Homo sapiens: one gene and its partners. The protein of the gene in region 4 interacts with the protein of the main gene of each other region in a biochemical or structural test. Each region holds a gene or a part of one and is shown on either strand. Other genes may lie near its edges. The genes, in order: UBE2V1, SEPTIN5, PARK7, PRKN, RNF41, PICK1 and CASK.

Region 1 (4,256 bases), on a different chromosome or scaffold from region 4:
TGACTATTAAAAAGTGAATTATGAAAATGCTAAAAAAAAAAACTTCATCAAGGTGCTAAAATATCACAGTAATCCAAGACTTTTTGAAGAAAATATTTGTTCCTATTATTTCAGAATTATTCTTTCCAGAAGGCTTTTTCCTGGACCTGTGTCAGTATCAAAAGTCAGCCGGTTATTCTCTTAGCTAAATATAAACTGAAAAGACAGCAGTTGCAGGATATTACAAAGAAAATATGGCAACCAGGTTGAAAAAGCATGAATATTTGATAGAGCTTTACACCATGCCACAGTAAAACATTTAATGCAGTAATCTGAAACACAGCAACATATTAATATATTTGTGGTACAAAAAGGATTCTGAAGTCGTTTAAAACATCTTTTGGGAAAATCATGGCCACCAAGCAGCAGCTACCACAGCATGTCAATCTTGGAAAACCCTGGCCTAGGTCTTGAATTAAAATGGTAGAGCTGGCTGGGCGTGGTGGCTCACACCTGTAATCCCAACACTTTGGGAGGCAGAGATGGGTGGATCACCTGAGGTCGGGAGTTCGAGAACAGCCTGACCAAGATGGAGAAACCCCGTCTCCACTAAAAATACAAAATTAGCTGGGCGTGGTGGCGCATGCCTGTAATCGAGCTACTCAGGGGGCTGAGGCAGGAGAATCACTTGAACCTGAACCTGGGAGGCAGAGGTTGCGGTGAGCCAAGATAGCACCATTGCACTCCAGCCTGGGCAACAAGAGTGAAACTCTGTTTCAAAACCAAAAACAACAACAACAACAACAACAACAACAACAAAAAAAAAAAAACAAAAAAAAGGTAGAACCTCAGAGGTTTCTCCTGAAAAGAAAGCTGCTAGTTAAAAATGGTTTGGTTGCCCATTCAGGGAAGACAGTGAACTGAGCTAGGAATCTGATGCTGCTCCCACTTCAGAAAATGAGGAGGTATGGAAGGTGATGCACTGGGATTCAACGTCCCTGAAAACTGGACATAGAGCCATAAGCAAGTAACTTTTATTTCTGAGCAACCGCCCAAGTGTAGTCTGGCTGTCTAGTTAGCCTGCCCAGGAGATCTGTTCTTCTCCTTCTCTAGAGCAATGGTTCTCCAAGTTAGTCCCCAGACCTCATCGCAAACTCGCTAGAAATGTACATTCTCAGGTCTTCAGCCCAGAATTCCTGAATCTGAAACTCCAAGGTTGGGCCTAAGAATCTGACAAGCCCTCCAGGACTCTGAGGTATACTAGTTTGAGATCCATTGCTCTAGGGGAATTCTAGGGAAAGAATTAGTAGCAAGCTGTCATTCTTTACAGTCCAGCCACGTGACAACAGCTAGTGACAGAATGCAAGACCCTGTGTTCTGCTGCTAGGGTCAGTGACCAAGACCAAGCATCAGATTTTCTTTGACAAAGGGGGAAACAAGATGTGGGAAATGAGTCAGGACAACTGGAGAAGGGGAGGATGGTTAATTCTACGATCAAGTACCTCTATAAATACCACCAAATAAGGATAAGAGTTTCAGTTTTTTGAAAGGCTGAATAGCCACTTTTGCTTCTGCCCTATCGGATACATTGTTTCTCCACAAATTGTCAAATGTATCCATTTGGCTACATCAAAGAGATTCTGAATTAACTCACTGCAACATTCACAAATATTTACTGAGTACCTACTATTTTGTCCAGAACTGTGCTGGTGCTAGGGACACAACAGAAGTTGAGATAGAATCTTGCCCTAGTGAAAAGGCATAGAAAATATGCAACGAAACAACACTTCAGGTAAGGTTAAGTGCTTTAGAGAAACAGAACAAAACAAGAAGCTGTGACAATGACTAAAAAACTATTGAATGGAGTGCTCAGGGACGGCCTTTCTGGGTAGCTGCGACCTGAAGAACAGCAGTCAGGCCCATGAAGATCTGGGGACAGAGCAAGATCAGAGGTGTGTGACACCACATGAAGTCAAGGCGGCAGGGCCTTGTGGGCCATGGAAAAGGGATGGGTTATTCTGTAATAAGAGCAGTGGGAAGGGCTTGCTGAAGGGGAGTGGCAGTTTCTATTTTACGTCTGTGAAAGATCATTCTGTCTCCTGTATAGAAAATGGAAAGGGCAAGACTGAAAGCAAGAGGCTTTTTCCATCTTCCAGGCAAGAGAAAGACGGTTCTGGTTAGATTAGGATGACAAGAGTGGAGACAGAAAGGAGGATTTGGCATTTAGTTTGGGGTTACACCTACTGGACTTGTGACAGGGTGGATGTGAAGATGAGGAAAGACTACTACTTGAGAGGTCACTGCCATCTACCCATGAATAAGCTAATCAGCCAAGGCAGAAATAACAGACATGCCAATGGCTGAAGATGCTTGCGAGGCCTACCTCAGAGAATAAGAAATGGGGGCTGGAAGAACGATCATCCGGCCAAGAGCACGTGTCCTGAAGCAACACCATCCCAGAGCACCCAGGCTCTGCACCTCAGGCTAGTCACTCCTCTCCTGGCCTGTTTCCTCACCTTCACAATCGATACCTGCCTCAATGGGCTGTTGTGACAAGTGAGATAATGTAGTTAATACAGTGTCTAGCACTTAGTAAACCCAAGAGTGCAACTTAAAAAGAAGTCTGATGGCTTGCATGTAAATAAGGATGAGGTACTACTTTGTACCTGCCATGATGGGGCTCCAAGCCCAAGAGGTGTGAGTCATTCAGTATAAAATATAAGCAAGAGCTTCCTGAAAAAAGGACCTCACTCTCCTTGGACAGCACATAACCCAGAAGAGGACAAACAGTGGCCAGAGATGCTATAAAAAGGGTTCCTGAAACGGGTAGCAGTAGACACTTCTTACTAAAGCCCTTTCTCTCTCCAAGATTAAACACTCCAAGACTTAGGAAGAACATATCCCTAAATCCATGCCTTTTCCATTTCCTGCAGGCTGGTGAGGGAACAGGAGTTAAAAATGCCTGGGCTCTAGTCCGAGCATCACCAGTCTCCCTTGGCTTTTGGCTCCTCCCTCAGTAATGTGGGTGGATACTGCCCCTGGCTGGTGACCAGGCTGTGGAGAGTTAGATGAGACAACATCACAGGTAAGTCGAAGTCTATGGGACACTCTAAAGCACTATCCACAATACAACAGTAATAGTATTCAAACATTTACTTTGCCAAATGTGCTGCTCTGAACTTCACTGTGCCCCTTCAAAATTAAGCAGAGGATTCCTGACTTCATATTTTGTATTCTACTTTTACCAAATTACTGCAGAGCTACAATTTGTGGGGAGGTGGGAGGGATAGAGATATGAAGAGAAAAGAGAATGTGGTGGGGGAAATAGAGTGGTTTTCAGTTAACATGAAGGGGGAAAATCATGATCATCAAAATTAACCTTGGTAATCCCTTAAGAAAATAATAGCTTGCAGCCCGGCACGGTGACTTACGCCTGTAATCCCAGGACTTTGGGAGGCTGAGACGGGCGGATCATGAGGTCAGGAGTTTGAGACCAGACTGACCAACATGGTGAAACCCTGTCTCTACTAAAAATACAAAAATTAGCCAGGCGTGGTGGCGCGTGCCTGTGATCCCAGCTACTCAGGAGGCTGAGGCAGGAGAATCGCTTGAACCTGGGAAGCAGAGGTTACAGTGAGCCAAGATCACGCCACTGCACTCCAGCCAGGTGACAGGGCGAAACTCCGTCTCAAAAAAAAAAAAAAAAAAAAAGCTTGCACTAGCCCAACAAAGCCAGTTTCCCCTCCATCACTGGAGCAGGCTGCTATTTCTTTGGCTGAGCACAATATGAAGCTGTTCTTTGAATGTAGGGCCCATGTTGTACAAAAGGCACTTAATTACAATTGGCATAAGATGCTCACACAGTGAGACATACAGGAACTGAGAAGAACTAAGGGACTGTGAGTTTTCATCCATTTCCAGCTCTCTCTGGGGAAGACTCTTGAATGGAAGGGAAGACTAATCTCTGCTGCCCACATGGTTAAGTTTTTATAAGCTGAATGTGCATATGAGGCCACTCCGATGTATGCAAATTTAAAATCATGCCCCACCAGGGCTTACCCCTCTGGCACTCATTTTCTGATTAAATGTCAGGGAAGCTCGTGGGCTGCTGAGTGAGAGGAAGGGCCTGGCAACCAAGGGCCACTATTTGATGTGCTGCAATCCTGGCCAAGGCAGGAGGAAGTCACCCGTCATAACATGGGGATTCTGAGGATCTGTGGTGGGCTTTTCACAGTTCCACCCTCTAAGACATATGTAGATATCACACATTGCAGAAC
Region 2 (3,914 bases), on a different chromosome or scaffold from region 4:
CCTAAGGGAGGGCTGGTGGCGGGTGGGGTGGGGTGGGGTTGGGGCCTCCAGCTTCTAATGTTCTAATGTGCAGGGGCTTGGCCTGACCAGTCCTACCCTGGAACCTTTCCAGGCCCCATGTCCTGCTCCGCTGGGCTTGCCTGTTGGGATTCTACTGGGGTCATGGAGGTGGGTGGCCCACAGAGCGGAGCTCGGGAGACCCCCGCAGTCCCTGGAGTAGCCACATGGGAGGGAGGCCCGGCTGGCAGGAGCTCCCAGTCCCTCCAATCCTGTGGGTCAGAGCTGGTGAGGATGCTCAGAGGGCAAGGGAATGTCCACAGAAGCACGTGGGAGATGGGTCCCATCCCACCCCCACCCCTGTCTCTGAGGGCAGGGCCACCTGAGGGCTGCAGGGCAGCGCATGGGTGGCCGGCGTTTATTCAGCAGGCTGGCGGGGGCTTCCAAGTTTTGCAGGGACCTCCAGTACTCCGGCAGCCTGCACCCTTCCTTTCCCTTCCCTTCCCTTCTGTCCACCCTAAGCCTCCTAGGGGACAGGCAGGCTGGACTTCAGAAAAGGTGGGCTCTGCCCTCCTCCGGTCCCCCGAATGTCTTGGGAAAGAGTCCACCAAACACACATGCACACACCCGCGCACACGCACATACCCAATGCATGCACACACGTACACACACACGCATACACGCATGTATACACGCGCACACACGCAGGCATTACACACACACACATTACACACACACACCCGCACGGACGCGCACACACAAACGCGCGCACGCACGCACGCACGCACGGGGGAGGTCAGCCCCAAGCAGGGCTGGGGAGGGGTGCAGGGCGCGGCGTGTCTGTGGGCACTTGGGGCGTCGAGACGCCGCCGGGAGGTTTTCGGGCAAGTCTGCGAGAAGACGGCGGGCCCTGAACTGGGCGGGTACCCGCGCTGTTGCGCGTGGGTCCCGGGAGCGGCCTCCGGCGCCCTCTGGCGGGCGGAAGCCGCGCAGCACCTCTTGGGGGCGGGACGCGCGGTGGCTACCGACTCCCGGCCCGCCCCGGCCCGCGTGCAGGACCCGGTCGTCCCCTCCTGCTGTCCTGGAGCCCGGACTGAGGCCCCGGGGGCGCGGCAGGGCTCCCGGTCCACGCGAGCCATGGCCCGACCGCGCCTCGGCTCAGCCCTGCCCTCCGCAGCCGCTTTCGGGTGGCTCCGCCCGCGGCCCAATTTCCAGGCGACCGTTTCCCGGCGACGGCGGGCGGGGCCGTCTCTGCCGCCCCCCGCCGCGCGCTCCGCGGGCGCCTGCGACGCCCCGCCTCTGGCTCGGGTGCGGGAGCGGGGCCTGCCCGGACTGCGACGCCGCCACAGCTTGGGGCCAGTTCGCCCAGTCAGGGGGATGGCTCGGTCGGCCTCGGGGGTCGACGATCCCCCGGGTAGGCGACGTGCCCTGTCCAGGCCTCACTTCCCGCGTCCGCAAAACGGGGTGGACAACGCAGCCTAAGGCAGAGCCGCGCCAAGGTCCCTCGCTGTCGCCGGGCTCTGGCGGCCTGACCGGGCCTGGGGTCCGAGCGTGCCCCCGGGCCTGGGGGGGTCGCCGCGATGGACTCGCTGGCAGCGCCCCAGGACCGCCTGGTGGAGCAGCTGCTGTCGCCGCGGACCCAGGCCCAGAGGCGGCTCAAGGTGCGTGTGTGGAGAGGGCGGAACGTGGGTCTGTGACCCCGCGGGCTCCGGGACTCGGCATGGGGTCCCCGTCCCCGCGCGCCACGGCCCGCCAGCGCCTAGGCTCAGCCCTTCCCTCCGCAGCGGCCTCGCAGGTCCGCGGCCCCACGGTGGGGCGACGTGCCCTGTCCAGGCCTCACCTCACGCGACTCCAAAACGCGGCGGAGAATGCGGCCGTGGGACCCCTCCAGGGGCCCCAAGGGTCTGCGGGGGCTGGGCGCCTGGGCGCGCGGGCGGGGGAGGCTCGGCGCCGCGGTCTATAAATAGGCGCTGCTCCGCCACCGCCGCTGCCGCCGCCCCCGCGGCTGGATCCGGGCCAGGTGGGGCCTCCCGCCCCCTGGCACTCTCCGGAGGGGTGAGTGTCGAGGCCCCCAGCTTCTCCGGCTTATGGAGGGCCTTGAGTGTGTCCCAGGGGTCCCAATCCTGCTGCCCTCTGCCCGAGGAGGGAGGACATCGCCTGTGCCTGCTGCGGCCTGACATCTCCCCACGGAATAAATACAGTGTCGGTCCCTGCAGAGCCCTCCCTGGGATTGGGGCCAGGGGTGCCTTCTCCTGCCACCACCTCGCCTGCCTTCTTATCTCCAGGCTTTTGCCCACGGGCCCTCCCCTTATTTTTGCCAACGAAATGCCCCACCCTGGGAACCGTACCCTCTGCTGTCTCCTCATACCGCATTTGGTAAGAGACAGGGTATTGGGCTTCTGGAGAAACCTTTGTGTCCCTACCCTGTTCCATCCTGTCCCCAGGACATTGACAAGCAGTACGTGGGCTTCGCCACACTGCCCAACCAGGTGCACCGCAAGTCGGTGAAGAAAGGCTTTGACTTCACACTCATGGTGGCTGGTGAGTGGGCCAGGCTCCTCGGGGGAGTGGCTGGGGTCACTGGCCAGCCAAGCTCTGTCGTTGGAGCCCCAGACCTAACGCAGCTCCTTCTCTGTACCTGTGTGCAGGTGAGTCAGGCCTGGGGAAGTCCACACTGGTCCACAGCCTCTTCCTGACAGACTTGTACAAGGACCGGAAGCTGCTCAGTGCTGAGGGTGAGTGGCCCCCAGGAGGCCCTGGCACTGATCCCCAGTCCCCTTCCATGGGACCTCTCCAAGGACTCCCTTTCAGGTCCAGCTCCCACTGTTCTGTTCTCGCGGTGTGGGTCCCCTGGGGGTAGGGCCAAGGCACCAAGATGGATGAGGACGAGGGTCCTGGCTGCCAAGGGTGAGGGGCTGAGGGTTGGAGAGGCCCTTCCAGTGGCCCCTTCCCCGTAGAGCGCATCAGCCAGACGGTAGAGATTCTAAAACACACGGTGGACATTGAGGAGAAGGGAGTCAAGCTGAAGCTCACCATCGTGGACACGCCGGGATTCGGGGACGCTGTCAACAACACCGAGTGGTGAGTGAGGCCTGCTGAGAAAGGCCTTGCCTAGGCGGCCACAGCACTCGAGGCCTGGCCTCACCTCCCTCCTGCCCACAGCTGGAAGCCCATCACCGACTATGTGGACCAGCAGTTTGAGCAGTACTTCCGTGATGAGAGCGGCCTCAACCGAAAGAACATCCAAGACAACCGAGTGCACTGCTGCCTATACTTCATCTCCCCCTTCGGGCATGGGTGTGTGGCTGTCCTGGGGCCAGGCTCGGGAGTGCAGCCCCTACAATATGGCCCCCTGGCTGTGCCTATGCCCACCCTTGGCTGCTCTCGGCAGGCTGCGGCCAGTGGATGTGGGTTTCATGAAGGCATTGCATGAGAAGGTCAACATCGTGCCTCTCATCGCCAAAGCTGACTGTCTTGTCCCCAGTGAGATCCGGAAGCTGAAGGAGCGGGTGAGCCTGCCGTCGCACAGGGGCCTGGCCAGGGCCCTGGGGCTGAGAGTACCAGGGGGACTTGTCTGGCCTCAAATCTGATGGTCCTTGCCCCACCACAGATCCGGGAGGAGATTGACAAGTTTGGGATCCATGTATACCAGTTCCCTGAGTGTGACTCGGACGAGGATGAGGACTTCAAGCAGCAGGACCGGGAACTGAAGGTGAACATGCAGACTGGTGGGGCAGGGGGGATGGAGCTGGTGAGGGGCAGAACCAGAGGGCTTTGTCTCCTTCACATTGAGCCTGCTGGAGGAGGGCCAGGTCAGCCCAGTTGGGTGCAAGAGTCATTTGTTCTAGGAGTAGAGGACCTGTACCCCCTTCATCCAGGGCTAGAAGGTAAAGGTCACCATGTCTTTGCCTGGCTGG
Region 3 (4,256 bases), on a different chromosome or scaffold from region 4:
TGTTTTGATGTTGATGTTTACCAAACCATCCACTCATTCATTCGTTTATTCATTCACTCTTCTGACAAATATTTATTTTATTTTATTTTATTTTTTTTTTGAGACGAAGTCTCGCTCGTGTCCCCCAGGCTGGAGTGCAACGGCACAATCTCGGCTCACTGCAACCTCCGCCTCCCGGGTTCAAGCGATTCTCCTGCCTCAGCCTCCCGAGTAGCTGGGATTACAGGCGCCCGCCACCACGCCTGGCTAATTTCTGTATTTTTAGTAGAGATGGGGTTTCACCATGGTGGCCAGGCTGGTCTTGAACTCCTGACCTCAGGTGATCTGCCCGCCTCAGCCTCCCAAAGTGCTGGGATTACAGGCGTGAGCCACTGCGCCCGGCCCTGACAAATATTTAATGAAGACCTATACAACAAGGAAGGTGCTGGCAAAAATTACAGCATGGGAAAAAACCAAAATGGCAGAACATCATCTGATAGGAAAGCAACAAGAATGGATCTTAAAATGGTTATGAGAAAATAAAATATTACTAAGGTACAAAGAGAAGAGGACATCTGCGAAGCACCAAATGTCCTTGTTCTAAATTATGTGGCAGATAATGCGGTGCCCAAGATCACTCGGTACTGAGACAATCAGAAACGCCCGAGAAGCCAGCGGAAAGCACCATGGGGGCTTCTGAATTTGCAGGGCAAGCACAGGACAGAGCTGCTGTGTTGATGTTTGATGGATTTTGCTGATTGTGTGCTGGCACAAAGACTTTCTGGCACAGAGACTTGCTGTAACAAGCTGTTTACTGAATTCCAGAGGGCCTTATTTTCCTCCGAGGTCAACCAAACACGGAAAACACTAAGTTTCACAGCATGTAGACCAAAGGCATGGAGAGGCAGAAAACAGAACAATTGTCCTCATCTCTGAAATGACACCAACTTCATGCCACCCAAACTAAATACACCAACACAGATGCCCTGCATGCTTTATGAAGGGGAAGAGCTATTTGGAATCAAACCATCGAATGAAAGGCTACCCCACCCACCAATGACGCTGCAACACAGGCTGCCCCTGCACGTCACCTGCACAGATGGCGGCTATCAGGCCCTTCCGGTTTTCCTGCTCCTTCAGTATCTCCTTCACAGCAGCAGACTAGTGAAAAGAAAACCAAAAATACATAAAGTTATCATTAAGCCACTAACCAATCACTCACTAGGAAACTTTGGAAGAATTTAATTTTAGTTTAAACCACAAGCTCTCTGACCTATTTTCCAACAATATTTCTAAATCATTGGTATAAAAATGATCAAAATGTGTCTATATTATATTCTTAAACCCAAGCAAGGCATTTCTCATAAGAGAAACGCACTCTTCCACATTTAAAGATCAGAAGAAGCAATTTGACCCTTGCCATTTTGTACTCCAGGGAGAAAGAAATGGGAGGGAATGTGGTGTTTTGGGTGTTTTCAGATGGCAGAGAGAGGAACAGAATCTAGCAGGAAAAGATCCCTTGTGTCTGACACAACCCACTTCTTACTTCTGGCAGCCCCAACTCTGCCTGCAGGTGTGCCCCTCACCCTGGCCTCTGACTCCTCACATACGACTTAAAATGAGGAACAATGGTCTCTGCTGATGGCATTTGCCATTCCTGCTGGCAGCCCTAGCCCCACAGCTTCCCCCAGTTAAGACTTTGAGTAGACAATTTGCCCTTCTCAAAACACAAAATCTGATCATTCTTCTGCTGGTGGAAAAAAACCAAATCATCTTACTTTGGACTGTATTCATCGACATCTGTTCATAACGGTCCCACCAATTCAGCTTACTTCCATGGCAACATTTTTTTTTTCTGATAAGACAGGTTCTTGCTTTGTTGCCCAGGCTAGAATGCAGTGGTGCATTCACAGCTCACTGCAGCCTCAAATCCCTGGCCTCAAGTCATCCTCCCACCATAGCCTCCCGAGTAGCTGGGACTACAAGTGTGCACCACCGTGCCCAGCTAATTAAAAGAAAATTTTTTGTAGAGATGGCGTCTCGATGTGTTACTTAGGCTGGTCTCAAACTCCTGGCCTCAAGCAATCCTCCTGTCTCAGCCTCCCAAACCACTGGGATTATAGACGTTGAGCCACTGCACCTGACCTCCATAGAAAATATTAAAAATGTTTTCTTGAGGTCGGGAGTGGTGGCTCACGCCTATAATTCCAGCACTTTGGGAGGCCGAGGTGGGCGGATCACGAGGTCAGGAGTTTGAGACCAGACTGGCCAACATGGTGAAACCCCGTCTCTAATAAAAATATAAAAATTAGCAGGGCATGGGGGTGCATGCCTGCAATCCCAGCTACTCAGAGGCTGAGGCAGGAGAACTGCTTGAACCCAGGAGGCGGAGATTGCAGTGAGCCGAGATTGTGCCACTGCACTCCAGCCTGGGCCACAGAGCAAGACTCTGTCTCAAAAAAAAAAAAAAGTTTGAGTTAATGCTATAACACCATTTTGTTAATTTTAGTTGTTTCTATTTTTTTTTCACAGCCTCCTCCCGAAATATTTGAATAATAACAAAATTAACAGAACATAAGCAGATGCTGAAATTCTTTAGTTTTTCCCCCCCCCCAGCTTTATTGAGGTATAATTGAGTAGAATTTTTTACCTCAGATAAATTCTGTGCGCCCAGATTACCTCCTGGTAGAACCACCACATCATATGGTCCCTGTAACAGTTTAAAACATAAAGAAAACAAAAACATTTCATTTCAACTGTGCATTAAATTGACAGTCCAATAATACTTTCCTATTTTAAATGTGGGAAGTACAGGAGATAGCCTATCTGCCAATAGAACAGTTAAATAAATTAAGGTGTATCCACATGACGGAATGGTGTTTTAACTAGCAAAAAATGCAGAAAACCTGTATGTAGTGACATGCAAGGATGTCCACGCTGCAGAGTAGCAGGGGTAGTATAATCTCCTTCCTGTAAAAGACAAGGATATATGTATTTGTGTGTAGATGTATGCGTGTATGTGTACAATCACCACAAGCACCCCACCCCACATATTCTGTATACAGGTAGTCACAGACAAAGGAAGACACTCTAGTTGCTAATGGGAGTAGTGTGGGATGGGGCAGAGGGAGAATGAGAACAGGACATTTAACATTTTGACTTTATATGTGTCTATATTGTTTGAATTATTGTTCAACAAGAATGTACATGAACAACTTAAAAAATTAATAGAAAAACAGGCTGGGCACACTGGCTCATGTCTGTAATCCCAGCACTTTGGGAGGCCAAGGCAGGAAGATTACCTGAGCTCAGGAGTTCGAGACCAGCCTGGCCAACATGGCAAAACCCCCATTTCTACTAAAAATATGAAAATTAGCTGGGTGTGGTGGTGCACACCTGTGGTCCCATCTACTTGGGGGGTTGAGGCAGGAGAATCGCTTGAACCTAGGAGGCAGAGGCTGCAGTGAGCTGAGGCTGCACCACCGCACTCTAGCCTGGGCAACAGAGCAAGACTCTGTCTAAAAAAACAAATAAAATTAATAGAGAAACAAATTTTAAGTAAAAGGCACAAAAAATTTTTCTTAACTTTATGAAAAATGTAACGGGGGGAGAATTTTAGTATCCCCCCCAAAAAATCCTAGAAATCAAATTAATTTCAAACTTCCTGAAATTACAAAACGGAAATTGTTTTAACAATACTTTAGGACTTTTTATTTATTTATTTATTTTTCTTTTCTTTTTTTTTTTTTTTTGAGACAGAGTCTTGCTCTGTCACCCAGGTTAGAGTGCAGTGATCTCAGCTCACTGCAACTTCCGTCTCCCGGATTCAAGCGATTCTCCTGCCTCAGCCTCCCAAGCAACTGGGATTACAGGTACCCACCACTGTGCCCGGCTAATCTGTGTATTTTTAGTAAAGATGGGGTTTCACCCTCTTGACCAGGCTGGTCTCAAACTCCTGACCTCGTGATACACCCATCTCGGCCTCCCAAAGTGCTGGGATTACAGGCGTGAACCACTGTGGCCGGCCAACAATACTTTAGTACTTTAAAAAGTGGTTAAAAAAAATCTAGTCATTAAACAAATTACAAAATAAAAATGTATTATGTATTTAGTGCAACCTATAAAATTTTTTTAGAGAGAAGCCCTCACCTCTGTCACCCAGGCTAGAGTGCAGTGATGCAATCGTGGCTCACTACAGCCTTGAACTCCTGGGCTCAAGCAACTCTCCCACTTCAGCCTCTGCAGGAGCTAGGACTACAGGCATGCACCACCACAGC
Region 4 (4,256 bases):
AGCCAGGCAGGTTGGCATGCACCTATAGTCCCAGCTATTCGGGAAGTTGAGCCCAGGAATTCAAGGTTGCAGTGAGCTGTGTTTGTGCCACTGCACTCCAGTCTGAGTGACAGAGGGAGATCTTGTCTCAAAAAAAAAAAAAAAAAAAAGTCATTTTGGACTTTGGGCCTCCAGAACTGTAAGAAAATAAATTTGTGTTTAAAAGTCACTAAACTTGTGGTAATTCGTTACAGCAACAACAGGAACTACACAAAAACTAATACAGTAATCTGGCCATGCCCCGATAGTGTATAATATTAAAGAAAGTGAAATTATGGTTCTAATGTTTGTTTTCCTGAAAACACTACTTTTATGACCAGAACATGAGCATAGTATGCTACCATTGAAAATTTATCTGACATAATTTGACACAAAAGTAGAATCCGTTTTAAATGTATTACCACAATGCATTTGTCCTGAAGATTGTGTTTATAACACATTGCTTTTCAGTATTTCCAAAACATTATACGCTTAACGCTGAAGATCTGAAAAACACAATCATAATAAAAGAAAACATCCCACAACCCAAAGATATAATTTGCCGGTATACTTCCTGATATTTTTACATATACAAATGGCCCCTAATGCTATCTAGTTTCCAGTTATGGTAACTAAATGGTCACATTAACACTTTTTAAAAAAGATCTTTCCCAATTATTAAGAACTCACACATATTTGTCCATCTTAGATCACTTAATCATCCTATCATCACTGTTTTAAGACAAAAAAAATCTTATTACTTCTAGGAACTTCATCTCAAATAGCATCCCCATCCCCTCTCTGACTGACTTTACCTGTATAACTTGCATTCTATTAAGCATAAGATGATTAAATTGGCTGCAAAAGCCAGAAGGGACTTTTAATGAATTTACACACTAAGAATTGTGACAACTATGTCTTGATCCAATATGAAAGTTTCTTAGATGTTGAATCTCCATTAAAAATTATTCCAGAGGCCAGGCGCGGTGGCTCATGCCTGTAATCTCAGCACTTTGGGAGGCCGAGACAGGTGGATCACGAGGTCAGGAGATCGAGACCATCCTGACTAACACGGTGATACCCCGTCTATACTAAAAATACAAAAAAAATTAGCTGGGCATGGTGGCAGGCGCCTGTAGTCCCAGCTACTCGGGAGGCTGAGGCAGGAGAATGGCGTGAACCTGGGAGGCGGAGCTTACAGTGAGCCGCGATCACGCCACTGCACTCCAGCCTGGGCAACACAGCAAGACTCCGTCTCAAAAAAAAAAAAATTTATTCCAGAACTGTCCCCCACAAAACAAAATAGAGTTCTAAAATGGGCAACAATGCCCAGAAATTGCCAGAACATAAAAAACAAGCACAGAGACTTGGTATAAAACTCAAGACACTGAGAATAAGATTATTTGGTGACTTCTTTGAAATCAAGATGATATAAAAGTCAATACCTATGTCAGAAGCTCTGCATGTAGTGAGACACGGCAGATGCCACACACACATACACACACACACACACGAGAAAGGGACAATGAATAATGGAGAAAACTCTAGAGAGGGACAAAAGGAAGAAATTCCAATTCCAATCATAGGTTGAGCATCTCACAGATTCCTAAATGAACAAGAGTGGAAAGCCCACAACAGATCTCTACGAAATATCACTCTCTGTATCATATGATTATGTCTAAATTGACTGCCCAATAAAACACATATACTTCCCATCTGATCCTATGAATTCAGACATATTCATGTAAAAACGTCTTTATATATTGTCACATGTAATTATACAAATTTGGTGAATATCAACTGGATCATGCAGTCTACATTTGTCTGTGGTCAGGAGCCCAGAGAAGCAGCACCTCAGAGAACATGACCTCACTTGTGCTTAAATCTGTACCTCTCACACTCTGGGAACTCACCAGAGAGCTATAAAGGACTTTCAGGAGAAAGGAGGTCGAATTTCAAGGGTGGAGAGAAGACCCAGGGCACAGGGAATATTATTCTTAAATCTGTCTAATTCTCCAAGGAGCAAACCTAACTTGCCCCCATCCTCTAGCTGCCCAGAGTTCATCATTCCTCAATTTTGTTTCAATGGAAAAAAAAAATTGTAATCAGGACTGGATTTGCCTGGAAGGAAAATGCAGAGCCAGAGACTACAAAGATTTCCATTGCAGACAATTCCCAATCTAGGGAATGTCTCCAGTAGGAGCTGTGGTGAAGCCTGGTCTGTTCCGGTCAGGCCACTCCTGTGATAACCCTCAGAAACATTACAACCCACAGTCAAGCCCTGTGGCAACAAGTAAGGAAGAAATTCACCTGTTGTTCAGACAACAGCTGCTCCTTTGAGCTGAAGAATGAAATATTAAATTCCAGCTTCTGAGAAAATCAAGGAATGTGGGTAAGAAAAAAATGAGGGGACAGAAAAGAGGGAGTGCAGGTAGATGTCAAAAAAAAAAAAAAAAAAAAAAAAACTAAAGGTTGACCTCAGAAACACAGATATTACAAATGTTCCTTCCTATTTCTCCATTTTATTAATACGAGCAAGTTTCAGGTGTCTACTTCCTATCATTTCATGATCTGGAAAATGGATCTACTCTGCGGGTACAATAAGCTTTAAAAATGACTACGCAGTTACAGAGGGCTTCATCACAAGATCTTATTTATGCACTGAAACTCCAAAAATATCTCACAATAGGAGTAACTGGCGTATTCAACAATTATGTAAATAAATAATAAAAAGTCTCAATCAGGACACCAATATTAACTCCCTAATCACCAATTTTCCCCCTCATTTGATGAGGGTAGGAGTAGAGATGTGCAAAATGGGTGAGGCTGCTAACTATTGAACATTCTCTCCTCCAAAGTTAAGGGCTCTCATGTGAAACTTTATGGGGGCCTCTGTTCAGGTCTTACAGTAAAAGTAAATTGGAGAGAATCATCAAGAAGCCATCAATACTCTTAAAAATACACACATCTGTCCATAGATGGTCTTTTTTTTTTTTTTTTTTTTTTTGAGACGGAGTCTCGCTCTGTCGCCCAGGCCGGACTGCGGACTGCAGTGGCGCAATCTCGGCTCACTGCAAGCTCCGCTTCCCGGGTTCACGCCATTCTCCTGCCTCAGCCTCCCGAGTAGCTGGGACTACAGGCGCCCGCCACCGCGCCCGGCTAATTTTTTGTATTTTTAGTAGAGACGGGGTTTCACCTTGTTAGCCAGGATGGTCTCGATCTCCTGACCTCATGATCCACCCGCCTCGGCCTCCCAAGGTGCTGGGATTACAGGCGTGAGCCACCGCGCCCGGCCCATAGATGGTCTTAATATGTGCCTAGGTATATGAGTCATGCAGATATCTAAGAGGAAGAAACTATTCTGCACTATTCTGGGTGACACGATATCCACAGCTCTGATGACATTGTTCTCTCCACACAGAGAAGAAACTATAAATAGAACCCTAAGCATCATGTTCCACATATCAAAGAAGGAGATACAAACTATTTTTGGAATACAAATAAAGCTTTAGTAACATGAAATAAAACACCTGTCAATAAGAGACATTAATCTATTCTACAAAAATAAGAACTTTTTAAAAAGAAATATGGCCTTTAATCAGAGATGATGTAATGACATATCAAATCAATGTCAACACCCTGAGAAAAGCCATCTCCTACTGCACAATTACCCTGCCATTCTCAGTCGAAGACTGTCCTCTATTAAACATTATCTGGACTTCTTTCCTTTGTTTTATGGAGTGAGTTTATAAACGCTTGTTCTCCGTAACTAGTGATTTCAAGTATTCTGTTTTATCTAAGAAGTACAATGAAGGTCATGAGAAGTCCTCTATTAACACTTTATCTGGACTTGCTGGCACTAGTGTAACTATTTTCTACAACGTTCTATTTCATAACTTTCTAGTACTGCCACAGACATCTTTCTAAAATACAACCTGTTCATAATGCTCTTTTGTAGATAATGGTTCAGTGACTCCTCCCTATCGCCAACTTTAAACCTACCTCCTTGACAAAGCTTATCTGGTGTGCCTGCAGCCTCACCAGATACCTTTCATTCTATTCTCTTCTCTCCCCTCCATGCCTGTCTAGAAGGCCGCCTTCACCTAGTTAACTCCTACTTGTCCTGCAGGAAAACTGGAATGGCTCCACTGGGAAACAGCTGGATCTTCCAAGCTCTATAGGCTGAGTTTTCCAGTACTTCCTTGTATAAACCTATATTATGATACCCACCTTTCAGG
Region 5 (4,816 bases), on a different chromosome or scaffold from region 4:
GAGACAAAAGGCAGGCTCACCCTTCTTGGAAGAAATGGAACCTGCGACAAAGAGAGAAACATTGTTAGTCCCTTTTTTTTTTTTTTTTGAAACAGGGTCTCGCTGTGTAACCCAGGCTGGAGTGTAGTGGTGCAATCTTGGCTTACTGCAACCTCCCACCACAGCCTCCGTAGTAGCTGGTACTACAGGTTCGCACTACCACCCTCGGCTAATTTCTGTATTTTTTTTGTAGAGACAGTTTCGCCATGTTTCCCAGGCTGGTCTCGGACTCATGACCTCAAGGGATCCGCCCACCTCGTCCTCCCAAAGTGCTAGGATTACAGGCGTGAGCCGCTGCACCTGGCCATACTACTCTTCCCCGCCCCGCCCCACCGCTCCACCCCGGCAAAGGAGTCTTGCTCTGTCGCCCAGGTTGGAGTGCAGTGGCGCGATCTCGGCTCACTGCAATGCAACCTCTGCCTCCCGGGTTCAAGCGATTCTCCTGTCTCAGCCTCCCGAGTAGCTGGGATTACAGGCGCCCGCCACCACGCCCGGCTACTTTTTTTGTATTTTTAGTAGAGACGGGGTTTCACCACGTTGGCCAGCCTGGGCTCAAACTCCTGACCTCGTGATCCACCAGCCTCGGTCTCCCAAAGTGTTGGGATTAAAGGCATGAACCACCGCGCCCGGCCATACTACTCTTATCTTACTTATCTCAGAGTCCCGCTAGAAGACAGCAGAAAGGAGGCCTGAAACTTTAGTTCCTTTTGGGACCTGTCAAATTGTCCACAAAAGGTAGCTAGCTCTGTATTGTTGTGTATAAACAAATTACATAAAGATATGTGTGTATGTGTGTATTAATGTGCATTAGCATTTGCTTAGCCAATGTCCACAATAAATACCATACTATTTAATACCAGATTAGTCTAGGAAGTCATGTGATTGTAATGCCTTGGTTTGCTTAATTAATCCCTTATCTGCTCACGGAGCTCTTTAGGCTCCACATTGACTTCCCTTGGATCCCACGTTCTCTACCGCCCACATCCCCAACACCACGGTGTTGTAAGCTAAGGAAATCAAACCCCAACTCAGGAAGAGGGAAATTTTTTCTCCCTTCCTTCCTCTTAGGTGTTTCAGGGAACTCCACAAGTGTTCGGGGAGCCATCGTGGATACGGCAGGAGAGCGCCTGGGAGAGAGGCAGACAACCCGTTGAGCACCCCAGATCTAAGCTTTGCGGTCAGACTCCCTCACTCCCCACCCCGCGGCCGCCTTGTTAACTGCAATATCCATTCCCATGACAGGAGTCAAGGGGTTACGAAGCTCTGGGATGCTGACCAGGGCTCTGGAAAAGGGAGAGGGGCCGGACCCGCAGCAGGTCACGCTGCAGGCCTGCCTCTCCGCAATGATCTCGCAACAATCTGCGTCAGCTCTAAGACACAAGTCACCTGCACCCCTCCAAAGCGAAGCGTGGCCGGCCAGGCCCACACGTTTTTGCCGGGAAGAACATAGAGTTCTCCCTCCTAAATGGCTACATAGTCCTGGCTGGGACCATATAGACTCTAGACTAGACTTCCTGTCTAGAGTGGAGGCCTGGCCAGCCTTCGTCCCTCCTCGTAGGCAGCTCCTGGCTGCTGGTGTAGGGGCTGAGTTAAACAAAGAGGCGGGGTTTGGTGACGAGCTTCCGCCGGGTTGCGTAGCAGCGGTGGGCGGGGCAAAGGATCCGTCTGAGGCGGCGACGAGTGGTAGGAGTCTTCTTTCCCCTCCTTCCCCTTTCCCTTCCCTTCCCGGGAGAGGCTGGGACCCGGCACCAGGGCAGTACTGTGGCCGCTGCGGCCTCAGCTCCGACTGGGTCAGGTTGCGGAGACTCCAGGCCGCTTCCAGGGCGGTGCGTACTGCGCCTGCGCGATCTTCCACCTAAAAGAGGGTGTGGGAGGGGAGGAGGTGATGTCCCAGGGGTATTGGGGCGGGGGGTTGAAATAACTGGGGTTCAGGAGGAGGGATGGTGGTAGAGATAAAAATGTGAGAAGGGAGCAGCACTGGCGAGGAGTCGGGAGGTGAGAAGGGGGCTCTGGAGAACGGGTTGTTGGGGAAGGTCCATTGGAATAGGGGAGCTTTGAGAAGTGCGGGAGGGGGCCGGGGCTAGCTGGAGGACCGGCACCTGCAGAACTGGGGGAACAGCGTGGTGTTTAAATGGGCAATGATTGACGGGCCAGAAGGGGAGGAAGGGAGCATTCCGGGGGCCAGCCTGGGCAGGGGCGGTGGAACCTAAACCCCCGCCCTCGAAGCGCCATAGCTTGGCTCCTCTCCCATGCCTTGTCGTTGGCAGCCTTGTCCTCTCATTCCTTCCCCGCTCCTCACCCCCTCCCAGCCCTCCATGAAGGAATCTCACATTCTTCACATCCCTGCGCTTGGTTTGCAGCCTGGCTCTCTGGCAGGGTTCACACACCACACACTGGAAGGCCTTCCCTAACTCAGGACTTTGGGAAATTGGGTAGTGGGGAGGAGGGGGCTAGAGGAAGAGCAGAAAGCCAGGAGGGGTGAAGGCGTTTTGCTTGAGGGATTGACAGACTGCTTCCCCGTTCAGAAACTTCATTTCATTTAATAGCAAGTGGGGCTGTTATTGAGGCCACTGTTCTTGGGGACTGGCCCGTGATAGTGTTATCCCTTTCTATACAGGGGTTTTAGAGTCTGACAATAGGGCAAGAGACTGATAGTGTTGTTGGCTGATAGTTTTGCCCCAAATAAGAATGTAGTGGACTAGTGGTAGGGAATGTGAGTGATGCAATGTTAAGCCGACCGACCTGTGGCTAGCCCTGCCTTCTAGTAAAAAGAAGGAACAAGCTTTTGTCAAGCATTTCCTCTCCGACTCTCAGTACTCTAAATTTATTTTGCATTCTTGTTTTTTTTTTTTTTTGAAACGGAGTCTCACTCTGTCACCCACGCTGGAGTGCAGTGGCACAATCTCGGCTCAGTGCCACCTCTTTCTGGGTTCAAGCGATTCTCCTGCCTCAGCCTCTTGAATAGCTGGGATTACAGGTACCTGCCACCATGCCTGGCTAATTTTTTGTATTTTTAGTTGAGATGGGGTTTCACCATGTTGGCCAGGCTGGTCTCAAACCTCTGACTGTAGCCGGGCGCGGTGGCTCACGCCTGTAATCCTAGCACTTTGGGAGGACGAGGCGGGCGGATTGCCTGAGCTCAAAAGTTCGAGACCAGCCTGGGCAACACAGTGAAACCCCGTCTCTACTAAAAATATAAAAAATTAGCCGGGGCATGGCTGCATGCACCTGTAGTCCCAGCTACTTGGGAAGCTGAGGCAGGAGAATTGCTTGAACCCAGGAGGCAGAGGTTGCAGTGAGCTGAGATTCCACCACTGAACTCCAACCTGGGCAACAGAGTGAGACTCTGTCTCCCCACACCCCCCGCCAAAAAAAACAAAACAAAACCCTGACCTCAGGTGATTGGTCCATCTCGGCTTCCCAAAGTGCTAGGATTACAGGCATGAGCCACTGCACCCAGCCTTATTTTGTATTCTGTTGCTACAAATAATCTTACTTGAGGATAACAGTATTCAGTATCCTTTCATATTTATTTATTTATTTATTTATTTATTTATTTATTTATTTTTGAGACAGGGTCTCACTCTGTCACCCAGGCCGGAGTGCGGTGCTGCGATCTCTGCTCACTGCAACCTCTGCCTCCTCGGCTCAGTTGACCTTCCCCCTTCAGCCTCCTCAGTAGCCGGGACTACAGGCACTCACGCCATCATGCCCGGCTAATTTTTGTATTTTTTGTAGAGACAAGGTTTCACTATGTTGCCCAGGCTGGTCTCAAACTCTTGGACTCAGGTGATCCACTCACTTCGGCCTCCCAAAGTGCTGGGATTACGGGTGTGAGCCACTGCGTCCAGCCTCCTTTCGTATTTATTATTTCATTTGATTTGCAGACAGTATGTATAAGGGGTGCGCGCGTGTATATACACATATATACACACACACACATATATACACCTTATATTACGCCGGGCGCAGTGGCTCACGCCTGTAATCCCAGCACTTTGGGAGGCCAAAGGTGGTGGATCATATGAGGCCAGTTTGAGACCAGCCTGGCCAACATGTTGAAACCCTGTCTCTACTAAAATATAAAAATTGGCTGGGCGCGGTGGCTCACGCCTGTAATCCCAGCACTTTGGGAGGCCGAGGCAGGCAGATCACGAGGTCAGGAGATCAAGATCATCCTGGCTAACGTGGTGAAACCCTGTCTCTACTAAAAATAAAAAAAAAAAATTAGCTGGGCGTCCTGGCGGGCGCCTGTAGTCCCAGCTACTTGGGAGGCTGGGGCAGGAGAATGGTGTGAACCTGGGAGGCGGAACTTGTAGTGAGCCGAGATCGCATCACTGCACTCCAGCCTGGGTGACAGAGCCAGACTCCGTCTCAAAAAAAAAATAAATAAATAAATAAATAAAATAAAAATTAGCCTGGCATGGTGACACATGCCTGTGATCCCAGCTACTCAGGAGGCTGAGGCAGGAGAATTGTTTGAACCTGGGAAGTGGAGGTTGGAGTGAGCTGAGGAGATTGCATCACTGCACTCCATCCTGAGCGACAGAGGAAGACTCCATCTCAAAAAAAAAAAGAAAAATAGGCCAAGCATGGTGGCTCACGCCTATAATCCCAGCACTTTGGGAGGCCGAGGCGGGCGGATCACAAGGTCAGGAGATTGAGACCATCCTGGCCAACATGGTGAAACCCCGTCTCTACTAAAAATACAAAAATTAGCTCAGCATGGTGGCACATGCCTGTAGTCCCAGCTACTTGGGAGGATGAGGCAGGAGAA
Region 6 (4,256 bases), on a different chromosome or scaffold from region 4:
CCTCCCGAGTAGCTGGGGTTACAGGCATGCGCTACCACGCCCGGCTAATTTCGTATCTTTAGTAGAGACAGGGTTTCTCCATGTTGGTCAGGCTGGTCTCAAACTCCCGACCTCAGGTGATCCACCTGCTTTGGCCTCCCAAAGTGCTGGGATTACAGGTGTGAGCCACCGTGCCCGGCGGCATCAAATGATTTTTGACAAGGGTGTCAAGAACATTCAATGGGGAAGGACAGTCATTTCAACAATGGTATGTGAAAAATGAAGTTGACACTACTTAACACCACATACAAAAATTAACTCAAGGCCAGGCGCAGTGGCTCACACCTGTAATTCCAACACTCTGGGAGGCCAAGGCAGGCAGATCACCTGAGGTCAGGAATTCGAGAGTAACCTGGCCAACATGGCGAAACCCCATCTCTACTAAAAATACAAAAATTAGCTGGGCATGGTGGCAGGCGCCTGCAGTCCCAGCTACTCAGAAGGCTGAGGCAGGAGAATCGCTTGAACCTGGGAAGTGGAGGTTGTAGTAAGCCGAGATCATGTCACTGCACTCCAGCCTGAGCAACAGAACGAGACTCTGTCTCGAAGATAATAATAATAATAATAATTAACTCAAAATTGTTCAAAGACCTAAATGTAAAAGTTAAAACTATAAAACTCAGAAAAATGCCTAGTCCAAAACCTTCACGACATTGGAGTTTACAGTAATTTCTTGGATGTGACACCTAAGATCCAAGTAACAAAAAATAAACAAATTGAACTTCATAAAAATTTTAAAACTGGTGCATCAAAATACACCATCCAGTCTGGGCAATGTGGCAAAACCTTGTCTCTACAAAAAACACGAAAATTAGCTGGGCATGGTGGTGTACGCCTGTAGTCCCAGCTACTTGGGAGGCTGAGGTGGGAGGATCGCTTGAGCCTGGGAAACAGAGGCTGCAGTGAGCTGAGATCCCGTCACTGTACTCCAGCTTGGGCAACAGAGTGAGACACTGTCTCGAAAAAAAAAAAAAAAAAGAACAGAGAAGAGAAGAAAAGAAAGGCAACCCACAGAATGGGAGAAAATATTTGCAAATCACATTTTTGATAAGGGATTAATATCCAGAATATATGCAGAATTCCTAAAACTCTTTTTTCTTTTTTTCCTCTTAGCCGATTGTGCTTTGTAGAGAATTCTTAAAACTCAACAACAAAAACCAAACAACCTAATTCAAAAATAGACCAAGGGCTGGGCACGGTGGTGCGCACCTGTAATCCCAGCATTTTGGGAAACCGAGGTGGGAAGATCGCCTGGGCAATATGGCAAAACTCTGTCTCTACAAAAAAAATACAAAAATGAGCCAGGCATGGTGGCGCGTGCCTGTAGTCCCAGCTACTCGGGGGTCTGAGGTGGGAGGATCGCTTGAGCCCAGGAGGTTGAGGCTGCAGTGAGCCATGATCGCACCCCTGCACTCCAGCCTGGGCGACAGAGCAAGATCCTGTCTCAAAAAAAAAAAAAGTTAAGATGGTAAATTTTACCACAATAAAAAAATAGAAAAAAGCAGAACAGAGAATACAGAAAGCAGGATGTCATCATCGAGATACATGACAAGAAGGACATGGTGTTCCCGATGACGCCCTCTGAGGATCTGGCACAATAAACAAAAGCCTGTGCCTGCAGCTACCATCACGACTCCTCCCAACACCAGGGACAAAAACAAAGTCCTCAAAGTTCTCACAGATCAGAAATAAAACACATCACAAATAAAGGATCACCAATAAGAATGGCAATAGCCATGTGACAGCAAAGGACAATGTGACAAGGCCATCACACTTCCACACAGGAATTACTGTCAACCTTGACGTTCATTCTTGAATCGAATGAGCCAAAATGTCAACTGAAAGGAATATGGGAACCACAATGACCAAAAAAGACAGACCCGAGGTCTCAAAAAATTGACATCCCACGTGCCCTTTCTCAGAAAGCTACAGGAGGATATTCTCCACGGGAGATCAGGGAGTAAACCAGGAAAGGGACCCCCAAGATGGGGGAATCCAAAGAGAAGGGGCAGGGGCAGGGGGAGGGCACAAGGGGGAGAGACTACAGGGCGGAAAACAGACTGAAGAAAATGGGGCCGGGCATGGTGGCTCACGCCTGTAATCCCAGCACTTTGGGAGGTCGAGGCAGGTGGATCACTTGAAGTCAGGAGTTCGAGACCAGCCTGACCAACATGGTGAAACCCCGTCTCTACTAAAAATACAAGAATTAGCCAGGCGTGGTGGCACGTGCCTGTAATCCCAGCTACTTCGGAGGCTGAGGCAGGGGAATCACTTGAACCCGGGGGCTGGAGGTTGCAGTGAGCCAAGATCACGCCATTGCACTCCAGCCTGGCAACAGAGCAAGACTTAATTTAAAAAAAAAAAAAAAAAGATGGGAAATTGTGGAAAACATACTGAGAAAACAAGGAGAGTGCAAATGAAAAAAACAAAACAGGAAATTACCCCCACCCTCTCAAAACACAAGAACAGGCTGAATTAAGAAAAGAAACATAGATTCCTCAGAAAGTTAAACATAGAGTTGTTTTGACTAGAATGAGGGCTCCGCAAGAGTAGGATCTTTGCTTTCTTATTCTTTTATCCCTAGTGCCTACAACAGAGCCTAGGAGGCATCTGGAAAAGATTTCCCGAACAAAATCTCCGTTGTACTAATATTAATTTAGCCAAAAATAGAAAAATAACTATGTTGGAAAGGTGGGATGAGAGGAAACAGACTGGTCATGGGAAGAACTAAATTCTCATCTACCAGACGAGGCAAAGTCAATAGATATTTACAGGTGATAGATCAAGAAACAACAGGATAGGCTGAGCACGGTGGCTCACGCCTGTAATCCCAGCACTTTGGGAGGCTGAGGCGGGTGGATCACTTGAACCCAAGAGTTTGAGACAAGCCTGGGCAACATGGCAAAACACCGTCTCTACAAAAAATACACAAAAATTAGCCAGGTTTGGTGGCACGTGCCTGTAATCCCAGCTACTTGGAGGCTCAAGTGGGAGAATCATCTGAGTCTGGGGAAATCAAGGCTGCAGTGACCCATGCTTGCACCACTGCACTCCAGCCTGGGCGACAGAGTGAGACTATTGAGAAAAATGGAAGCCCATGCATGAAGAGACAGAGAAAGCCGGGTGAGGTGCCCAGGGGAAGGGCAGTGGATTGCTATTATTTGATACAGGGCTTTTAATGCTCTTGACTTGGTAGAGGCAAGTCATATGGCACTTTGATAAAAACAAAATTGAATTTAAAAAAATCAATTCTATGATGATGATGATTATTATTATTTTTGAGACGGAGTCTCACTCAACTGCCCAGGCTGGAGTGCAATGGCACGATCTCGGCTTACTGCAACCACCATCTCCCGGGTTCAAGCGATTCTCCTGTCTCAGCCTCCCAAGTAGCTGGGATTACAGGAACCCGCCATCATGCCTGGCTAATTTTTGTATTTTAGTAGAGACAGGGTTTCACCATGTTGGCCAAGCTTGTCTGGAAGTTTTCACCTCAGGTGATCTGCCCACCTCAGCCTCCCAAAGTGCTGGGATTACAGGTGTGAGCCACCGCACCCGGCCAGTTCTATTATTTTATTGGCTGGTGGTTCATGCCTGTAATCCTAGCACTTTGGGAGGCTGAGGTGGGTGGATCGCTTGAGGCCAGGAGTTCGAGACCAGGCCGGCCAACATAGCTAAAACCTCTCTCTCCTACAAATACGAAAATTAGCTGGGCATGATGGCGCACACCTGTAATACCAGCTACTCGGGAGGCTGAGGCATGAGAATCGTTTGAATCCAGGAGGCAGAGGTTGCAGTGAGCTGAGATCACGCCACTGCACTCCAGCCTGGGCAACACAGTGAGACTCTGTCTCAAAAAAAAAAAAAAATCAATTATACTATTTTATGATGTCTGTTCATTCTAAGCAAACTTGCACCTGAGGTAGGTAGAGGGAGGTGGCGAGAGGCTGAGCAGACACACGGCCAGGAGGCCAGGCCTGGGGGAGGTCTTGCTAATGCCTCCTGGGTCACAGGAGGCCGAATGGCTCATGAAGGAGGCAGCACTGTGAGCAGAAGCAAGACCAGGTCGATCCTGGGAATCTGTCTTCGAGGCCTACAAGCGACTCCTGAGCAAGATCCTCACAGAGGCCAGTTTCCCATCTGCCACCAGTGAGAGGGTTAGAACAGGTATTCCCAAGGCTACAGCAAGGTCACTGACTTGGATGAGCCACACAGTG
Region 7 (4,256 bases), on a different chromosome or scaffold from region 4:
GCAGCAGCAGCAGCAGCAGCAGCAGCAGCAGCAGCAGCAATGTACTGAAATTACTCTGAATTCAGAAATGTAAGTATATGCAGCTAGGTCATAAAGACACTGCTTTAGAGAAGACATGTATTAGTGGAATGGAACAGGTAACATCTTTGAGAAGTCAATGAGTTCTGCATGCAGGGATTTCACCATCGGAATGATGGCAAGAATGATGCCTGCCTGTGTGCTTCTCAGAGGACGTATAAAGCCACTGAGGATGAGTGCTACAGTGCTTGTGAATTGTGGGGCCACAGACATTTAAGTTGGCATTGCTTTTCTCCTCCTCTGCTTAATCCACCTTTATAAATATGGCAGATGGCTTAAGACAGGCATCATCAGCATCTCTGGAGATGTGGGCTCAAAGGGCAAGTGGGGGCGTGGGGGTTTCCACTAGAGGGAGGGAAGTTTCTGTTTCCCATGTGTTAGTTGTAGTTGTCTTTGTGCTTCACCAGAAAAGAGGTAGAGTGCGCACCTTCACACTAAGAGCCCGAAATTGTGGTCAGTACCATACCAGGAACGACTGTCTGGCCTTGGCATCTATCAGATTCGAATCAGTTCTAACACAGCCCTACCCAACTCTTTGAAGGTTTCTCTCTCTATCTAGTGTGAGACCACTGTTGAGCTTATCTCTGGTTTGGTGGCTTGGTCACCCCACTGTGGGGCCCATACAGAAGTAGTTCACTCAATACCTTGTTAGTAAGTTGCAGACTCATCTGGTCACTGGCAAAGAACAACATCAGAAAAAAAAAAATCGCCACCATTTAATAATAGGCGGTGGGGGGCGGAGGCGGGTATGGTGTTGACAATGTAAAAGAAGTATACTAATGCCTTCTCTGTTTGGTCCTTTAAGAGGAGCTGTTCAGCTCAGAACACACCCTGCACATCCTGCCAAGGCACAAAGTGACAAGGCCATCTAACCTACAAGAAGCAAAAAATGATGGTATGTTTTCAAGGATCACAGGTTAATATAAGCACTTCACACCCTCACATGCTAATGAAAAACATTCTACTGACCTCTGGCAAAGAGTCTGAGAACCCCAGCCCGAATCTCCTGTATTGGAAGAATGTGACTTCATGGAAGAGTTATGAGATGGTTAATGTCTCTAAAGCAACAAGGACAGATGATTCCCCTGTGCCAAGGGATACAGCAAGAGGAAGGAGAGACCACAGGTGGCCTCCAGTACACCCGTGGCCCTTGGGCGCATGGCTCTGTGCGAGTCAGACGTGGTCCAGCTGTGCTCTGGCAGGCTACTTTGTCACCCTGCCAACTGATACTCACTCCTGGGCCTTCAAAGGTTCAATGAGCATCTAACAAATTATACAATTGTAAAGATTATCAGCTTGGAAGCCTGAACAAATCTATAATGAAATGAAGGACCCAAAGGCATTTAATTATTGAACACATAAAAGGAAGTATATTTAAAAAAAATTGGTCAAACTGTCCTGTTAGTTATCATTTTAAAGGAATTTACAGGGCTGTTATAGATGATTCTTTTGGAATATTTCAGTTTATAGCAAATGCCTAAACTGGTTTCTTCATTGCACAGTATTTTCTCTTAAAATGGGTGCTTTAAAACAATTACATACAGATTAAAAATCATTTCTTTGCTTAATTAAAACGTTAATACTCTTAGACAACACAGATCTGAAATGGTGAAACCAGCAATTCCCCCCACCCCACCTTACAACAAATTAAATTGAGACAAAATTACAAACACATTTCACTACATGATTATTATTAATAAAAATCAGTTTCTTTTTTTTTATAAAGTTGCCCAAAATGCAAGGGATGTGCATAGGTTTACAACTTAGTCATAATAGCATTTTATTCTTATTCCCCTGGGTGTGCCCCATGAACGGAATGTAGAATGTACTTTGCTGTAGATTACAGATTGTTTTGTCCAACACAGACACACCGACAGCATAAACGCTCGCGACTGTCCACATGCATTAAGAGTCAAGACCCAACTTCAAATCTCTAAAAGGTTTACAGGGTGCTTCAAAGAGACAGTATCACATTATCTGGATGTTACATAAAGGACTTAAAAAAAAATACTATTCTAAAAAAAAAAAAAGAGAGAAAAAAGGCCTTTAAAAATTTATGACTGTTTTGTAATCACTACACTAATTATTTCAAATAAATAAAGGAAAGAAAGATATCCCAATATTCCAATCCATAAAATCAGACTCTAAAAAGAATGTAGTGTTCCACCCCCAGTCAAGGTAACAGAATCATTGTTTATTATTATTAAAATAGATTATAGAAAGCAGCATCTATTTTGTGCAGTTTTTAGGGGCCTTGGAAATAAAAAGCTATGATTTCCAAAAATATAACATTCCAAAGGATTGAATAATACATACATTTAAAGATACATTTTATTAAAGTTTAGGAGAACTGATTAAAAAAGATACTGTCTCTTTAAATTAGTGTGTAATTGTTTTTCTCCTCCTATCTATTCGGACATGACAATAATTATAAATGTAGGTCACACTACAACTAGGTAGTCTCTAGGGACCATGACCTGCTGACACAAGGCCGATAACAAAGAGGCTTTTCCACAAATGAGGTGCTCCCAGTTATGCTCAGATATCTGGGGAGAGGCCTAATAGACCCAGGAGACAGGGACCCACTGTGGGGCTGTGCACACGAGCTCAACAGCTTCCTCCAGATGTCTGATTGTCTCATCAATTTCATTGTTGATAATTGTGAGATCGAAGTAGTGTGCATATGTTCTCTGTAAGATGTCAGACTCCTTCTGCAGACGCTGAAGAGATTCATCCTAAATGGTGATGAGATGGAGGTAGGGGTGGGCATGAGAGGAGGGAAAAGCAAACAGAAGAGAGAAATCAGTTGGATTCGTTCTCTTTTCACATTTTTGTTCATCCCAGTGTCAGAAACAGTCAAGGCCAGACCCTGATATGCCATATGCCAGCATGAGGCCAAGTCCGCTCCATGACAGAGGAGACAGTGATTGCTCAACATGCAACAGAGGGTCCATGACAAAGCAGACGAACCAGAGAAAACAGATACTCTTCAGGAAACATGCCACCCCCACTCAGGCCTAGCTGTGCCTGTCCCCAGAGTCAGGCTTGGTAGGGCCATGCCAGGTGTGGGTTACAGTGGCTATGGTGGCCCAAACAGGCCAGCAGGAAGCCCCCCGCCCTAGCCTCAAGCCACTCTCCCAATTGGCGAGAGGGCTACGGTGGCAAGGCTGGAGCTCTTTGCCCCCGTCCCCTTGGTCCTCCACACTCACTGGAGCCAGGCCTCAGGGCCCAGCTGTGTTTGCACCAACAAGTCCCTGCCCTTGGATGACAAATTAAGTTGTATTTTTTCCTCTTCTACTTAAAGGTGCCACACGTTCTAGGAATTCAATTACATATAATGGCCCTCACTCAATAGCAGCTGATGCCAGAGGCAAAAGATCTTTGAGTGTTACAAATAATGGCTGGAATAAGGCTGTTTCCCCAATAAACAGCACCTGGCATCTGATGAATCCCCCCAAATTGGTCTGCATTAGAAGTGGCTAGACAAATGTCACTGTTCGTAGGTCCTCATATCTCTTATGAAAAAAACAGAAGGAAGAGAACTCTAGGGAGTACTGAACTCTAGGGAGGTTTGCTGCAACAAAGGATGTTCCCTAAGCTGCAGCTTGCCACAGATTTTAAGAACTCTTGTAAGAGGGATCCAACAGGAGGAGGGAGTTTAGGGTCCCAGCTTTGTCATGCAAGTATAGCTTCTGCTACAGAGTGGCAGTTCTTTCAAGACAGGGGTCTCTTAAGAGCCACCAGAAAGAAGTCTGCCTCTATATCTTCGCAAGTCATATTTGTCATGCTGAACTCCCAAAGGGCAAGTTCAACCTTGACACTAGGGAACTTTGTGAGTCAAATTAACCACCCCCTACCTGCCAAACACTAGGTGGGTGAGCTCTTGGGCTGAGTCTTAAATATACATAGAGATAACGAAATACCTCTTTATTTGATTAGTGGCTATGTCTCCAGCTAGGGCATAAACTTGTCTTGTGTGCCCTGTAATTGCTGTGCCCCAGCATTAGGCATAGTGCCTTACACATAGTAAGTGCTTAATAAATGCTGTCAAAAGAACAAGCACTTGTCTGACTAGTGCCAGTCATTATAGGGTTTTACAAGTATTAAATCTAAAATCAAGAGACTGAGCAATTCTTCCAGGAAATTGGGGCCCTGGGTGACAGAGACAGATCTCCAGA

Evidence for each region.
Region 1: the proteins of PRKN (region 4) and UBE2V1 form a complex in vitro, tested with the Homo sapiens proteins (4 studies listed by BioGRID).
Region 2: of the proteins of PRKN (region 4) and SEPTIN5, one has a biochemical effect on the other in vitro, tested with the Homo sapiens proteins (2 studies listed by BioGRID).
Region 3: the proteins of PRKN (region 4) and PARK7 form a complex in vitro, tested with the Homo sapiens proteins (2 studies listed by BioGRID, with this or other methods).
Region 5: the proteins of PRKN (region 4) and RNF41 form a complex in vitro, tested with the Homo sapiens proteins (2 studies listed by BioGRID, with this or other methods).
Region 6: the proteins of PRKN (region 4) and PICK1 form a complex in vitro, tested with the Homo sapiens proteins (3 studies listed by BioGRID and IntAct, with this or other methods).
Region 7: the proteins of PRKN (region 4) and CASK form a complex in vitro, tested with the Homo sapiens proteins (2 studies listed by BioGRID and IntAct, with this or other methods).

Annotation. Positions count from the first base shown.
Region 1 is NC_000020.11:50,106,079-50,110,334, forward strand, and holds part of UBE2V1 (ubiquitin-conjugating enzyme E2 variant 1), read right to left. Parts: intron 3,034-4,256; exon of another isoform or gene 2,895-3,033; intron 1-2,894. UniProt on the Homo sapiens protein: Has no ubiquitin ligase activity on its own. The UBE2V1-UBE2N heterodimer catalyzes the synthesis of non-canonical poly-ubiquitin chains that are linked through Lys-63.
Region 2 is NC_000022.11:19,717,161-19,721,074, forward strand, and holds part of SEPTIN5 (septin-5), read left to right. Parts: intron 1-59; exon of another isoform or gene 60-1,577; coding exon of another isoform or gene 1,578-1,658; intron 1,659-2,441; coding exon 2,442-2,538; intron 2,539-2,645; coding exon 2,646-2,732; intron 2,733-2,954; coding exon 2,955-3,078; intron 3,079-3,159; coding exon 3,160-3,294; intron 3,295-3,388; coding exon 3,389-3,506; intron 3,507-3,607; coding exon 3,608-3,709; intron 3,710-3,914. UniProt on the Homo sapiens protein: Filament-forming cytoskeletal GTPase. May play a role in cytokinesis. May play a role in platelet secretion.
Region 3 is NC_000001.11:7,967,778-7,972,033, reverse strand, and holds part of PARK7 (Parkinson disease protein 7), read right to left. Parts: intron 2,690-4,256; coding exon 2,630-2,689; intron 1,141-2,629; coding exon 1,071-1,140; intron 1-1,070. UniProt on the Homo sapiens protein: Multifunctional protein with controversial molecular function which plays an important role in cell protection against oxidative stress and cell death acting as oxidative stress sensor and redox-sensitive chaperone and protease.
Region 4 is NC_000006.12:162,717,437-162,721,692, forward strand, and holds part of PRKN (E3 ubiquitin-protein ligase parkin), read right to left. Parts: intron 1-4,256. UniProt on the Homo sapiens protein: Functions within a multiprotein E3 ubiquitin ligase complex, catalyzing the covalent attachment of ubiquitin moieties onto substrate proteins. Substrates include SYT11 and VDAC1.
Region 5 is NC_000012.12:56,218,809-56,223,624, reverse strand, and holds the start of RNF41 (E3 ubiquitin-protein ligase NRDP1), read left to right. Parts: upstream 1-1,702; 5' UTR 1,703-1,865; intron 1,866-1,923; exon of another isoform or gene 1,924-2,034; intron 2,035-4,816. UniProt on the Homo sapiens protein: Acts as E3 ubiquitin-protein ligase and regulates the degradation of target proteins. Polyubiquitinates MYD88. Negatively regulates MYD88-dependent production of pro-inflammatory cytokines.
Region 6 is NC_000022.11:38,060,404-38,064,659, reverse strand, and holds part of PICK1 (PRKCA-binding protein), read right to left. Parts: intron 1-4,256. UniProt on the Homo sapiens protein: Probable adapter protein that bind to and organize the subcellular localization of a variety of membrane proteins containing some PDZ recognition sequence.
Region 7 is NC_000023.11:41,517,784-41,522,039, forward strand, and holds part of CASK (peripheral plasma membrane protein CASK), read right to left. Parts: intron 2,814-4,256; coding exon 2,637-2,813; 3' UTR 1-2,636. UniProt on the Homo sapiens protein: Multidomain scaffolding Mg(2+)-independent protein kinase that catalyzes the phosphotransfer from ATP to proteins such as NRXN1, and plays a role in synaptic transmembrane protein anchoring and ion channel trafficking.